Linked DNA regions of Homo sapiens. Each later gene encodes a partner of the first gene's protein in a complex. Each region holds a gene or a part of one and is shown in the gene's direction. Other genes may lie near its edges. The genes, in order: MCCC2 and MCCC1.

Evidence for each region.
Region 2: the proteins of MCCC2 (region 1) and MCCC1 are in contact, whole or in part, in a cryo-EM structure (PDB 8JXM), measured with the Homo sapiens proteins. Residues at the interface, in NP_071415.1 of Homo sapiens: Leu56, His57, Val60, Glu61, Lys64, Asp88, Ile91, Pro93, Gly94, Ser95, Pro96, Phe97, Leu98, Glu99, Gln102, Ile123, Gly124, Arg125, Gly128, Glu130, Arg234, Trp276, Leu278, His281, His282, His285, Lys298, Lys299, Leu300, Ile304; in NP_064551.3 of Homo sapiens: Glu519, Phe526, His531, Asp532, Phe534, Ser535, Pro536, Phe537, Ser538, Ser539, Ser540, Ser541, Gly542, Arg543, Arg544, Leu545, Asn546, Ile547, Tyr549, Thr550, Arg551, Tyr568, Tyr636, Leu637, Ser641, Glu644.

Annotation. Positions count from the first base shown.
Region 1 is NC_000005.10:71,582,664-71,590,372, forward strand, and holds the start of MCCC2 (methylcrotonoyl-CoA carboxylase beta chain, mitochondrial isoform 1 precursor), read left to right. Parts: upstream 1-4,676; 5' UTR 4,677-4,762; coding exon 4,763-4,891; intron 4,892-7,709. UniProt on the Homo sapiens protein: Carboxyltransferase subunit of the 3-methylcrotonyl-CoA carboxylase, an enzyme that catalyzes the conversion of 3-methylcrotonyl-CoA to 3-methylglutaconyl-CoA, a critical step for leucine and isovaleric acid catabolism.
Region 2 is NC_000003.12:183,089,430-183,096,700, reverse strand, and holds part of MCCC1 (methylcrotonoyl-CoA carboxylase subunit alpha, mitochondrial isoform 1 precursor), read left to right. Parts: intron 1-2,092; exon of another isoform or gene 2,093-2,095; coding exon 2,096-2,142; intron 2,143-4,155; coding exon 4,156-4,292; intron 4,293-5,743; exon of another isoform or gene 5,744-5,765; intron 5,766-7,271.

The DNA of each region.
Region 1 (7,709 bases):
AGCCTCCCAAGTAGCTGGGATTGTAGGTGTGAGCTACCGTGCCCTACATCATTTTTATTGCAGGCAGTATTGTGTCATATGGATTTACCATAATTTGCTTATTCATTCATCTGTTAATGGACATTTGGGTTGTTTAGAGATTTTGTGTATTACAAATAAAGCTGTTATAAATATTTTTGTTCAAGTTTTTGTATGCACACGTAATTTTATTTACCTTGAGTAGATTCTTATAATAGTGAAAAGTAAAAAAGCCTTTATCACAGCTTGGAGTCTATTATCTTCTGTAGATGCAGGGCAGTTTGGCCGAGAATCAAGCCAGGATTTGACAAGAAGGGAGTTGAAGGGTCAATGAAAGGTACAGTATGATATAAGGACACTACACAGGAAGGAATGGAAAGCTGAGAAATAGGATGGACACATTTGGGCAGATGTGGTCAAGACCCAGACTCTCAAATGCCCAAATCCCCTTGAGCTTTTCTCAGAGTGGAGGCAACCTACCCTCATATCCACTCCCCATTCCTGACCAGCCTTTCCCTGTGTAAAAGGCACTTAGTCGCTTCATCTGGGGCAGTTGCCTTATGAGCTGATGCTAGTTCTTGTAAGGGACTGATCCTACCCTGCCTCCTTGCCTCTGGATCTTAACAGAAGTTAGTTATTCCAGTGCAAACCAAAAAGTACTGAACGTGGCCCAGAAAGAGATAGTTTCTTGCCAGTGTGTATTGGCAAGAGTTAGGGAATATGGAAATGGATTGTTACGCCAAGGAAAACAAATATAAGGTTGGATTGGGATAAATGTATAAACATGAGTGCATGTGCTGGCATGTCAGTCATGTTTTCCAAAGATAGTCACACAATGTCTCTCATCTTTTCTGCCAGTGGCCTTGACACTCCTTCCATTGAGTGGTGGGGTCTATGTCCCCTCCCCTTGAATCCAATAGAGTACAACCAAAGTAATACCATGTGATATCCCAGGTAAGGTCATTAAGTTTCTACAGAAGAGACTTGATAGCAAAGGAGAGCCTGCCAGGTCTAACTGCTCATCCTGACCTCCCAGCTTCTTGCCTGGCCTTTAAATAACCCTCCCTTAGGTGTCCTGGAATGTCTCCTTGCTCTGATTCCAGAGCAGTTATTTTTTATGTATTCATTCAACAAATTTAGCGTCTGTAATATGCCCAGCATAGGCCATAAATGATGACACTGACAAGACCCCAAGTTGGAGAAACTAAATGAGCCCTAACAACAAGTGCTGACCCGAGCCACAATAGAGGCCTGTTGAAGGGAGAAAGAGGTAATGAGGTGGGGTCAGGGAGGGCTTCTGGAGTAGGAGATTCCTGAGCCAAGTCCTAAAGGATGTGTATGGGCTCACCAGGTGGAGAAGATGGAACGGACAAGTCTGGTCGTGGAAAGATGCCCTGGGCAGAGGGAACGGTGCGGATAAAGGAAGGAGAGCAAGTGGAAGATGGCAGCCAATGGGAATGAGCAATGCATGGGAAGGAACTGAGGGTGAGATGAAAGGCAGCGCACCAGGCTGCAGAGATCAGCCCTGGCGGTTACATTTTTCAATTAATTCTCTTATTTTTATTATATAAAACATTATTTTGGCCAGGCGCGGTGGCTCACGCCTGTAATCCCAGCACTTTGGGAGGCCGAGGTGGGTGGATCACGAGGTCAGGAGATCGAGACCATCCTGGCTAACACGGTGAAACCCGGTTTCTACTAAAAATATGAAAAATTAGCCAGGTGTGGTGGCGGGCACCTGTAGTCCCAGCTACTCGGGAGGCTGAGGCAGGAGAATGGCATGAACCCGGGAGGCGGAGCTTGCAGTGAGCCGAGATCGTGCCACTGCACTCCAGCCTGGGCGACAGAGCGAGACTCCCTCTCAGAAAAATAAATAAATAAATAAATAAAATAAAAACATTATTTTACTTTATTTTTATTTTATTTTTATTGTTTTTTTTAGAGACAGGGTCTAGCTCTTGTCACTCAGGCTGAAGTGCTTGGCAAGATCATGGCCCACTGCAGCCTCAAACTCCTGGACTCAAGTGATTCTCTCACCTCACCCTCCAAGTAGCTAGGACTACAAGCACATGCCACTGTGCATGGCTATTTTTATTTTTCAGAGACATGGGCTCACTATGTTGCCTAGGCTAGTTTCAAGTTCCTGGCCTCAATAAAACATTATTTTAAAAAATCAGAGATGGCAAAGATTATGTTCCTTGTAATCTCAATAGTGGGGTAGAGAGACACTGGACACTAACAGATGCTAGGTGACTGCTTTTGGCCTTCTGTGCATTTGCACTTCACCTTTTGCATTTTTCTACTTAGCTGTTCTGGGAACATTATACATTTCCAAAGAGCTTCTTGTAACAAAAGTTACAAGAAATAAGAAACATGTATGACTTTTTTTTTTTTTTTTTTTGAGACAGAGTCTTGCTCTGTCACCCAGGCTGGAGTGCAGTGGTGCCATGTCGGCTCACTGCAGACTCTGCCTCTCGGGTTCCAGCGATTCTCCTGCCTCAGCCTCCCAGGTAGCTGGGATTACAGGCACGTGATACTATGCCTGGCTAATTTTTGTATTCTTAGTAGAGATGAGGTTCCACCATGTTGGCCAGGCTGCTCTCAAACTTCTGACCTCAGATAATCCACCTGCCTTGGCCTTCCAAAGTGCTAGGATGATAGGCATGAGCCACTGCACCCGGCCAAAACAGGTATGACTTTTAAAGAAAGCAAGGAATCATATCCTATTGTGTCTTTTCTGTCTTCGGGTGGTGATTTTAAGTACTTTGCATCATTGAAGAACTATTTAGAGAAAAATAAAGTGTGGCAATTAAAATATCAAACCCTCTCTTCTGATACCCTGATACATATGAAAAGTCAGTTTTTACTGGCCTTTTTTTCTGTTGACCATGGGAGGCAAGCACAGTGTAAATCATACCTTTGCAGTTTAGCTCATGCTCTCCTCCATTTGCACAAAGCCTGGCCATGTTCATTGCTCAGTCCACTCTCAACGCTTCTGCAAGGCTCAGCTGCAACCCTTTCCCAATTGCATTCTGTTCCTTTAATGTCTGTCCTACACAGTTCAGTAAGAAATCATGTGGCCATTTGTATTATTTTCTTATAAGTACCTTGAAGTCTGAACCTAAGTTTACCTCCAGGTGTAGACGCACCCTTTCTCTACCCCATCCTCCCCCTTTACTCTGCCCCACTAAGCAACCAATGGAGTAGAAGTAGTAAGTGCTCAATAAATATGTGAATGAAAAACCTTAAGTTCAAGGCATTTTGTATAGAATGTTTTAATTTTTATGGGTATATTTGGAGTCCTTTATTTAAGACCACAGTGCTGATGTCCACAATCTGTCACTACATAGTGCCTGGTGTGGTGGCTCATGTCTGTAATCCCAGCACTTTGGGAGGCTGTGGCGGGCAGATCGCTTGAGTCCAGGAGTTCAAGACCAGCATAGCCAACATGGTGAAACCCCTACAAAAATAAAAAATTAGCCGGGCTTGGTGGCACAAACCTGTAGTCTCAGCTACTGGAAAGGCTGAGGTGGGAGGTCAAGGATTCAGCGAGCTGTGATCGTGCCACTGCATTGCAGCCTGGGCGACAGAGTGAGGCCCTGTCTCAAAAAATGAAATAAAGTAAAAAATAAAAATAACTACATAGCGAAAATAATCAGAAGAATGTTTAAGGTCTCCAGTGAAAGGACAACAGGCTTGTTGTGCTGTTCGCAAGCACGTGTTAGATGCGATTCACTCATGTTGTTGGTGTGTCACTGGGGGTTGTGACTGCAAGTTGTCCAGGTTCTTGGCATTGTGAACAAAGAATTGGACAAAACGCCCAGCAAAGCAAAGAAAGAACAAGGCAACGAAAGAACGAAAGCAGGGATTTACCGAAAACGAAAGTGCACTCCACAATGTGGGAGCGGACCGAGCAGAGCTCAAGGGCCCGGATATAGAATCTTCTTGGGTCCAAATACCCACTAGAAGTTTCCTATTGGCCATTTTATGCTCACCTCAAACCCGATTGGTTGCAAGAAGCAAGCAGTCAGAGGCTAGGGTGAAATTACAAAGTTATACTTCTATGCAAACGAAGACTGGACCCCCAATCAGTCTGATTGGTTGTGGACAGCAACCATTCAGAGGCTGGAGTTAAGGTTCAAACTTGGCAAAGCAAGCCTCCACCAGCAGTAAGTCTGATTTGTCGGGGACAGCCAATTTCCTATCTGCCCTGCGGAAAAGGTGGGGGGGTTTGCAAAGGGAGTAGCCTTTGGTCCTTTTGTTACTTAGGCATGGAAAGTTAGGGTTTTCCTTTCAGTTTAGCTCTAGGAAGTCAGCGTGAGACAGCCTTAGGTTCCCTGCTTCCAGACTTATTCTCCTGCCTTAGGTACAGTCACTATCGTGATATTATCTATCGCTGTGTCAACACAACACCAATCCAAGCCCAACCGCAGCTCTCTCACTGCCGCACCGCTTCGTGAGGGTCGATCCGCCGGGGAGACCTGCTCTCCTGCGCTCGGGACTAGACGCGACCTCGCGGGGCTGAGGCTCTGTCCCTTATTGGCTGGGTCAGGGGGCGTGGCGCGGCTTGACCAATCGCGGGCGGCGCGCTTAGGCACGTGTGTGGACAGGCCTGAGAATCAGAGAAACCTTCTCTGGGGCTGCAAGGACCTGAGCTCAGCTTCCGCCCCAGCCAGGGAAGCGGCAGGGGAAAGCACCGGCTCCAGGCCAGCGTGGGCCGCTCTCTCGCTCGGTGCCCGCCGCCATGTGGGCCGTCCTGAGGTTAGCCCTGCGGCCGTGTGCCCGCGCCTCTCCCGCCGGGCCGCGCGCCTATCACGGGGACTCGGTGGCCTCGCTGGGCACCCAGCCGGACTTGGGCTCTGCCCTCTACCAGGTAGGCTGAGCGCCCCGGTGGCCTGGCCGCCGGTGCCAGGCTAGGAAGCAAGTGGAGGAGGGGCACGCTTCAACAACTGCTGCTCTCTTGTCCGGAGCCCCAGTTGATTCTGTGACGCACGTGAAGTTTGAAGAAGAAAAGCCTAACAGATACAAGAAAGTTTAGTTCACTTTTAGAGCTGGCACTGTACTTTGTGTCTTTGAAATCAGTGGTTCTTAAAGCCTGGTTTAGAATTGCCACCTGGGGAGCTAGCTGAATAGCTGCCTGAGCCCTACTCTGGACCTTGTGGGTCTCAGGTGGAGTCGCTGTGTTTATATTGTTAGTGAACTCATTAGGGGACTTTTGGCAGCCAGCTTTGGGAACCACTGGCCTAGAGCAGCCCAACGAGGGGCGCTGTGCTTAGGAAATTTGAGTTTAAAAGTTGATTATGATGGCCGAGCCCAGTGGCTCACGCCTGTAATCCCAGCGCTTTGGGAGGCCCTGGCGGGTGGATTACCTGAGATCAGGAGTTCGAGAACAGCCTGGCCAACGTGGTGAAACCCCATCTCTACTAAGAATACAAAAATTAGCCGGGCATGGTGGCGCGCGCCTGTAATCCCAGCTACCTGGGAGGCTGAGGCAGGGGAATCGCTTGAACTTGGGAGGCGGAGGTTGCAGTGAGCTGAGATCGTGCCATTGCACTCCAGCCTTGGCAACAAGAGCGAACTCTGTCTCAAAAAAAAAAAAAAAAAAAAGTTGGTTATGTTAATAGAAAATATCCCACAGTATCTTTGAGTGGCTTTTCTTGGAATTAGGAGGCATCATAAGGCCAAAAAACTCAAAACTTGCGAAATATCAGAGCTGGAAAATTTCACTGTGTTCCCACGATTTCTAAGCCTATACAGATAACATCTAAATAGTGCAAACAACACACAATTGTTTGTCAGTCCAGAATGTTTAATTCAGAATTATTAAGTGGTTATTGTGGTCTAGGCACTATTTTAGATATTTGGCATGGATGCGTAGGAATGGAACTAATAATTTTGTAGGGAAGATGGACAAGAAAGCAGGTAACTGTGGTACAGTGTAAGAAGGGTTGTCTAAAGCTTGAGAAGGTGGTTACAGAAAGCTACCGATAGGAAGTAATGGGTGAGATGAATCTTGGGTAAGAGCTGGCCAAGTTCAGGGTGCAGGATGGAAGGTAAGACTGTATAAACCAAGAGAGTTACAAGAACATAGGTACTGAGTTATGAAAGTGTATATCTGGTGTGAGGACTTGAATTCCATGTCTAGGACATGGAATTCATTGAATAGTGTCTGGTGATGGGATTGATTGATTATGGGGCCAGATAGAGGAGGATCTTCCATGCAAAAGCCACATTTAGATTCCATTTGGCAGGTTGTCCATTAAAATATTTAAGTAGATAAGTGGCATGATCCTATGGATATGGTAGAATCATCAGTGTGGTGGCAATGTGGAGGATGGATTGATATAGGGAAAAGACTAGACCTAGGTGACAGTGGAGAGTTGAGTCTTGAGATGAAGGAGTCAAAGTTAGAGTTGTATGTAGGAGGGGGGCATAAATACCTGAGGAGCAAAGATTATAGAGTTAATAACTGAGTGGAAGGGGAAAATGGATGACTTTGGAGTTTCCAACTGGGCAGAATATTTAGTTAGGTGGAACTGCCATTAATACAAAGAAGGCTTTGGTGATGGGTTTTGTATGAATCACCTTTTGCTAGGTTGCGCTTTGTGTAACAAATAATCAAAAAATCTCAGTAACTCACAACAGTAAATATTAGTCTCTCACTTGATTTTGTTTTGTTTCTTAATCTCTCACTCGTGTTGGTGGCCTTTGGTTAGCTGCTGCTGTGACTGTTCCACTGCAGGGTAGGTTCAGGTCTGCTCCATGTGTCTTCCCATTCCTGGACTGAGGCTGAAGAGCAGCCCTGAATTAAACATGCCCTTCTCATGGCCGAAGGCACAGGAGCAAGAGGCTGAACACAAATTGGATTTAAAATCCTTGCTGGCATGTGATGAAATTAATGTGTGCTCACATTAGACAAAGCAAGTCCATGAGGGTGGGGGAGAATGGGATGAATGATCCAGTTTAGCTGTGTTTCCTGATTACAAATAAAAGCAACTATAATAAGTAATAATAATGGCAGGAATTTTATAGTGTACCCACCATTTTTCTAAAGGCTTTATGTGGTTTTACTCATGTATTTATCATAATGATCCTGTGCAGTAGGTACAATTGTTATTTCTGTTTTATAGATGGGAAAACTGTGGTATATAGGGTCCAAGAAATTTGTCTGAGATAACACAGAGCCTGAATTTGAAGCCAGGTGGTCTGGCTCATAACTCTTGAGTCCAGGGTCTTAACTGTTGCTCTATAATGCTTCTCACTCACCCAGCTCTACCTAGGTGGGTTCTATGGTTGAAAAGATGGGGTGGGAAACTTGTCAGTGGCTCAGCTCCAATTCATTATGACTGTCAGGCACTAACCTCTGTGGTTGCTCAGCTTCACAAGAAAATTACTAGGTTGTAGAATGTTGTTTCGCAGGTGATTAAAACACACACACACACACACACAAACACAAACACCTGGCGTCCTGAGAGATCAAGATTTGCCAAATGCAGTATCAGTAAGTAGGGAAACTGAAAGTTGAACTTGGTTTTGCCACTAAACTACACTGCCTCTTGGTTAGTGAGTCTCATCCTAAGGAGGCTAGGTTGGTTGATAAAGGATTGCCTGGGAGGTGAACTGTAGCCAGTACTGGCTCTTCTGTGATTTAAGTCTGATGGGCTGAGCTTGGCACAGATGTTGCCCAGTCT
Region 2 (7,271 bases), on another chromosome or scaffold:
GCCAAAGCTGTGGGTCTTCCCAGCAGCTCCTCATGGATGGCAGCATCTGAGTGTGCATTGTAGGGCAATGAGTGTATAGACGCATATAGATGTGTAGATGTCTACTGCATCTCCGCTCCAGTGAAATACTAGTCCTGCTCAACTACATAGTCATATACATAATATGTATATACTACTGCCTAGTTACATAGTTTCTAATGCACACGCTGTGCTTTTATCTTGTGCTTTGTGAATAATCTAAAATGGTTAGTTAGTCCTTTATAACCACATCTTCCAGGTATAGACAAAAAGATAGGTGGAATTGCTTCTGTAATTTGTTTGTTTCCCTGCATATGCTTTTTATTTATTTATTTATTTTTTTTTTTGAGATGGAGTCTCACTCTGTCACCCAGGCTGGAATGTAGTGGCACGATCTTGGCTCACTGCAACCTCCACCTCCCAAGTTCAAGTGATACTCCTGCCTCAGCCTCCCAAGTAGCTGAGATTACAGGTGCGCACCACCACACCTGGCTAATTTTTGTATTGTTAGTAGAGATGGGGTTTCACCATGTTGGCCAGGCTGGTCTCGAACTCCTGACCTCAGGTAATCCCCCCACCTCAGCCTCTCAAATTGCTAGGATTACAGGCGTGAGCCACTGCACCCAGCCCACTTATCCTCTTTAGCTGAAACTTAATAGACGTTATACTTTTTTGTTCCTAAAGTGAATCTGGCCTGTTTTCTGTCAGCTCTTGGTTACTTTATTTTATACACAGGTATCACGAAACTTAAAAATTGTTGAGACTTCTACCTCATTAAAATACCTCAAGTCATTTTGTCTCCCCATTTCTCCATTTTTTTAAATACAAGGACTTGGAATAGAATTGTATAGTACTTTTAAATCTGAGAGGTACCTTCAAGATCACCTCTTATAGTCTCATCTCGTGTGTGAGAACACTGAAGCCCAAGCTATTAAATCTTGCATCCTCAACTGGGATGATACCACCGCTAAAGGGTGGAAATTGATTCTTAGGAGAGCCAGGAAATCTTAGATTTTGTCATGGTTTACGGCTTTCCAAAGCTCAACCTTACCCCACCCTTCCTACAAGGAATAAAATCTTTTAAAAGTTTTCTCATTAGGAGAGTAATAATGAAAAAAAAGTTGGAGAAACACTGATGTAAAGTGACTCGACCCTGGGCAAGCTGGTCATTGGAGGGACTCGGATGAGAATGCAGCTTTTCTGGTCCCACAGCCAACATTCTTTCTGTTGCCCCTGTTTAACTTCCGTTTATTTCTCTGGTCTTACTTTTTAAACATGTCTCATGTTTAAACTTGATTGGTATTTTTCAAACTGTAGATTGACCAGCATATTTTAATAAAATAGGATACAACTGAAAGAACCAAAAGAGTTTTGTTCTTTTTGTTTTTGTTTTTTTTTTTGAGACGGAGTCTCGCTCTGTCACCCAGGCTGGAGTGCAGTGGCCCAGTCTCGGCTCACTGCAAGCTCTGCCTCCTGGGTTCACGCCATTCTCCTGCCTCAGCCTCCCGAGTAGCTGGGACTACAGGTGCCCGCCATGACGCCCGGCTAATTTTTTGTGTTTTCAGTAGAGACAGGGTTTCACCGTGTTAGCCAGGATGGCCTCAATCTCCTGACCTCATGATCTGCTTGCCTCGGCTTCCCAAAGTGCTGGGATTACAGGTGTGAGCCACCGTGCCTGGCCAGGGCAGAATGAGTCATTTTTAACAAAACATCTGTTTTCATTAAGTGTGTGTCCTGGGTAGTTTGTATTGTGAGTTGTAGCCAAAAAGGTTTCAAAAAAGCTAAACTAGATGATGTTGGTATACCTTGGTTGTTTAATCATCTCTGACTGTGGTCTTATGCCAGCCTCAGGAACAAGCAGGCTAGGTGACTCATTCAAGGACAGGTAGTACGAGGGAAAACAGCCAGAACTCTAACTCTTGAGTTCTAGATTAGTTTTCTACCCACTAAGAAAGTCTTACTAAAGCACTGTTAGTTGGCTTAAGGTTTCATGTTTTAAGAAACTGAAATTCTTTTGAAAGAACAATTGTGTTGCCTATTCTGTTTAATTGTAATTCCTTTTGGATTTATGTTATAGGACATGGGTGTGGAGGCAAAGAACCATGAAGTACACAACAGCCACAGGTACTGACAGACTTTGTTGTTCTATTTGATTTTGCTTCAGACTGGAAGTGTTTAAGAAAGGGAAATGTTTAATCCCTTAATATATGCATAATAGAATTAGTTATCATAAATTTTGGATTTTCACGATAATTTTCTAGGAAGTGTTAAGTCATGGTTTTCACCTCTTTTGTATCAAATCTCTCTTGCTGTTAAGTCTAAAATACAGAGGGCAGCCGGGCGCAGTGGCTCATGCCTGTATCCCAGCACTTTGGGAGGCTGAGGTGGGTGGATCACCTGAGGTCAGGAGTTCGAGACCAGCCTGGACAACATGGCAAAACCCTGTGTCTACTAAAAAATACAAAAATTAGCTGGGCGTGGTGGCGGGTGCCTGTAATCCCAGATGCTTGGGAGGCTGAGGCAGGAGAATTGCTTGAACCCAGGAGGCGCAGGTTGCAATGAGCCAAGATCTCGCCACTGCACTCCAGCCTGGGCGACAGAGCAAGACTTCGTCTCAAAAAAAAAAAAAAAAAAGTAAAAATAAATAAATAAAATACAGAGGGCAATAATGGAGAACATTTTATATTCGTTTGTTCTTTCTGTCCATTTGACCCTCTTAGTGTATTGGATTGGAAAATCATAACTACGATGGTCTAAAGCAGTTCTTTGAAAAAGCTATTTTAAGTAGCAAAACCTTTTTTTCCAAATAAAATTTAACATGGAATTCCCAACTATGAAACATATAAAAGTGTAATAAAGTATAACTTCTAGCTGATTGGATATAGCCCTCTACCTACTGTGCTCTCCTTCCCCTGCCCACACTCATACATATGTCATCCATCAGCCCCTGTGACAACTCTTGGGCTCCATAGAGCCCCATCGAAAAACACTTTTAAATTAGGTGCAACCTTTTTTTTTTTAAAAGGAGAAATAACTTTATTATGTTGAGCCTATGGATTCTATTGAAGAAATAACTTTATTATGAACTGTCAAAGAACATTTATTTCACGTGTGATATTAGAAGTACATTTTATATATGCAGTAGCTTGTCATTATGGTGCCATGCCAGTAGACTGGTACAAGAGTCACTTGTGTTGCAAGAGAACCACACACACCTATGTACATAGGGATAGAGGCAGAGGAGCAGAGTGACTGAAAGCTTAAATTCTGGAGTGACGCAGATCTAGGTTGAAGTCCCAGATTGTTTCTTTAGCTGTGTAATTTTGGGAAAATAATAGCTCTTTCAGCATTAGTTTCTTCATCTTTAAAATTGAGATAACAATGATAGTATCTATTTCATTAGGATTATTGTGAAAATTTAAGTCGATGTTGAGTCTTTAGCACAGGACCTGAGGCACAGAAAGTGCTTATTAAAGATTAGTTAGTATTGGCCGGGTGTGGTGGCTCACACCTGTAATCCCAGCACTTCGGGAGGCCAAGGCAGGTGGATCACCTGAGGTCAGGAGTTCGAGACCAGCCTGGCCAATGTGGTGAAACCCCGTCTCTACTAAAAATACAAAAATTAGCCAGGCGTGGTGGCAGGCACCTGTAATTTCAGCTACTCAGGAGGCTGAAGCAGTAGAATTGCTTGACCCTGGGAGGTAGAGGTTGTAGTGAGCCGAGATCACACCATTGCACTCCAACCTGGGGGACGAGAGCAAAACACTGTCTCAAAAATAAATAAATAAGTAAATAAATAAATACATAAAAGAGTAGTTATTAATGATGATAATTTAACACTATTATAATTTGATCCTTGGCATAACAAAGCATCTTTTAATTTTATTTTATGTTGCTTTGTATTTTAAGTTTAAAAAGCTGAGTAATTTATGTTAATGAGTACCTTGAATTTAAGAGAAAAGAAGTGCACTGTCTAATATTAGTTAAAGTGGTCATTTTGGGCTCAGTTATGCTAGTTTTACCAAAAACCTTGAACTTATCAGTCGAGTCCTTATCAGCCAGTTAAGATCGTATTCTCATTCTCATTCTTTGCTCTCCAGTAACATTTCTGTGTGATTTTCATGGTGTTTTAAACAGGAAGAAACATTACCAAGGTCCTCATTGCAAACAGAGGAGAAATTGCCTGCAGGGTGATGCGCACAGCCAAAAAACTGGGTGTACAGACTGTGGCGGTTTATAGTGAGGCTGACAGAAATTCCATGCATGTAGATATGGTATGTGTTAAAAATTGGAAGCCACGTCTTACGTTTATTCGTTTACTGTGTCAGTATTTTCGTTCTTTATGATGACAGTTGATATTTGCTAGTGTTATCAGGGTTGAAGTAGGTAAGTTCAAACTGCTCACTGCTAATTCTTGGGAACATTTTTCAGATATAACATCAGTTGAACTAAGCGGTGTGCTTAGTAGAACAGTTGATTTACAGGCAAGGTCTTTATCTCCTTGAGGATTGGTTAAAACGGTTCACAGAATGTTGCGGATCCACTGACTACACTTTGAGTAGCTCATGTCCAGATTCCGTATATACAAGGAGAAAGATCCAGGCTCTATTCTTTTTTTTTCTTTTTTTTTTGAGATTGAGTCTCGCTCTGTTGCCCAGGCTGGAGAGCAGTGGCACAATCCCGACTCACTGCAAGCTCCGCCTCTCAGGTTCAAGCGATTCTCCTGCCTCGATTCTCCTGCCTCGACGTCTAGAGTAGCTGGAACTATAGGTGCCCTCCACCACGACCGGCTAATTTTTTGTATTTTTAGTAGAGACAGGTTTTCACCGTGTTAGCCAGGATGGTCTCAATCTGCTGACCTCGTGATCCGCCCACCTTGGCCTCCCAAAGTGCCAAACAGGCGTGAGCCACCGTGCCTAGCCAATCCAGGCTCTATTCTTAGCACCTGCTACTTACTGGCTGAGTGATCTTAGCCAAGTCACTTCATGTTTCTGAGCCTTGCTTCATCTGTAAAATTATAACTAATAAGACCCAACTCCCTGAAGTTTGTGAATGTTACGGGTGAGTTATTACTAGTTTTTTTTGTTTTGTTTTGTTTTGTTTTGTTTTTGTTTTTGACAAGAGTCTCACTCTGTTGCCCAGGCTGGAGTGTAGTGGCGTGTTCTTGGCTCACTGCAACCTCCACCTTCCAGGTTCAAGTGATTCTCATGCCTCAGCCTCCTGAGTAGCTGGATTACAGACACACACCACCACGCCTGGCTACTTTTTTGTATTTTTAGTAGAGACAGGATTTCACCATGTTGGCCAAAATGGTCTCGAACTCCTGGCCTCAAGTGATCCACCCACCTTGGCCTCCCAAAGTGCTGGGATTACAGGCGTGAGCCACTGCGCCCAGCCTATCACTAGCTTTTATCCACCAGAAATAACTCCAAGCATAGGTGACTCCCACTGTTGGACTTCATTATGCCTGCAGTAAGACTCCAAGCACTAGCATCAATTCATGATGAGCAGCCTCACCTGGGCTTTTATCACTGTACAGCAGGCCCTTGTGGCTCTCTAGCCACTGTTTTTCTCACTCTGTGCAATGAGTATTTCAAACTTGTTTCGCTTCATTCCAACCTCCAATTCTCCCTCTACCCACCTTTTTGCAGCAGGATGATCTTGATTTCACAGAGAAAATAAAATTGAGGTTCCTGCCACAGAATCTGCTGACTTAGTTATGTCTGCATCCATCTTTCCCATCGAAGGTCAGTGCTCTGGATCCCTTCTCTTCTTGTCTTTTTAAGAATTTTCCCGGCTGGGCGCAGTGGCTCACACCTGTAATTCCAGCACTTTGGGAAGCCGAGGCAGATGAATCACCTGAGGTCAGGGTTCGAGACCAGCCTGACCAACATGGAGAAATCCCGTCTCTATTAAAAATACAAAATTAGCTGGGCGTGGTGTCACATGCCTGTAATCCCAGCTACTCGGGAGGCTGAGGCAGGAGAATCGCTTGAACCCGGGAGGCGGAGGTTGCAGTGAGCTGAGATCGTGCCATTGCACTCCAGCCTGGGCAACAAGAGCGAAACTCTGTCTCAAAGAAAAAAAAAAAAAGAATTTTCCCAAAATAAGAGAGTAAATTTTAAATGTCTTACCATGAAAAAATATTAGGTAAGTGAGATGATGCCTAGGTTAATTGGCTTGATTCAATCATTCCACATTGTGTGCATGTGGCAAAACATCACATTGTACCCCATAAATGCATACAATTATGATTTGTCAGTTAACAGTATTAATAAAACATAAAGCAAAATGAGACATTCCTGTGTCAAAAAGAAAAGGATCTTCTATTTTTCAATGATGGGTCTTCAACCACTCTCTACTAGACTGATACTATCCATGTCCCTAAATCCAGTGGAGTCTCCAGGGCTGAGCTGACTTGACCCCTCAGCAGCATTTAGCATCCTAGTACACTGCTCCCTTCTTTTAGAAATAAATTCTTCTCATGGCATTCTCAGCCTCTTGCCTTCTTGTCTTCTCTCAGTGTCCTTTATCTGGACCCTACCCATCTACCAGACCCTACCCATCTACCAGACCCTTATGTTGAAGTTTCTTGGGACTTGGTCCTTGGCCCTCTTTTCTCAGTGTGCACTCTCATTCTGGATCATTTTATATACTCCTATAGCTTTGAGAAAAACTCCCAAATTTCTATTTTTAGTCCAGACTTTCTTTTGAGCATGATACATATATATCCAACTGCCCATTCAACATCTCCACTTCAATATTGTCACAGGTACCAAACTAGTGTGACTGAAATTGAACTCATGACCTTTCACCTATACTGAACCTGCATTTCTTACAGAATTCCCTAACCCCGTAGAGTACAACACCATTGCTAATAAAAACAATAATGTCAGAGATCTAGAAGTCTTTGAGCATTTTTCTCTCTTCTTTCCTACTCTAGATCCTTCCCCCCTCATCTAGTAAATGACCAAGTACTGTTAATTGTATTTCCCAAACATTTCTTTCCACTTCTTTCCACCCCCTCCCACCTATAACTTAACTCAAAGCCACAGTCACCTTTTTTTTTGAGCCAGGGTCTCACTCTGTCAGCTAGGCTGGAGTGCAGTGGCACAGTCACAGCTCACTGCAGCCTCAACCCCCCAGGCTCAAGCAATCCTCCTACCTCAGCCTCCTGAGTAGCTGGGACTACAGGCACTTGCTACCATAGCCGGCTAATTTTTAAAATTTTTTGTAGAGATGATGTCTCACTA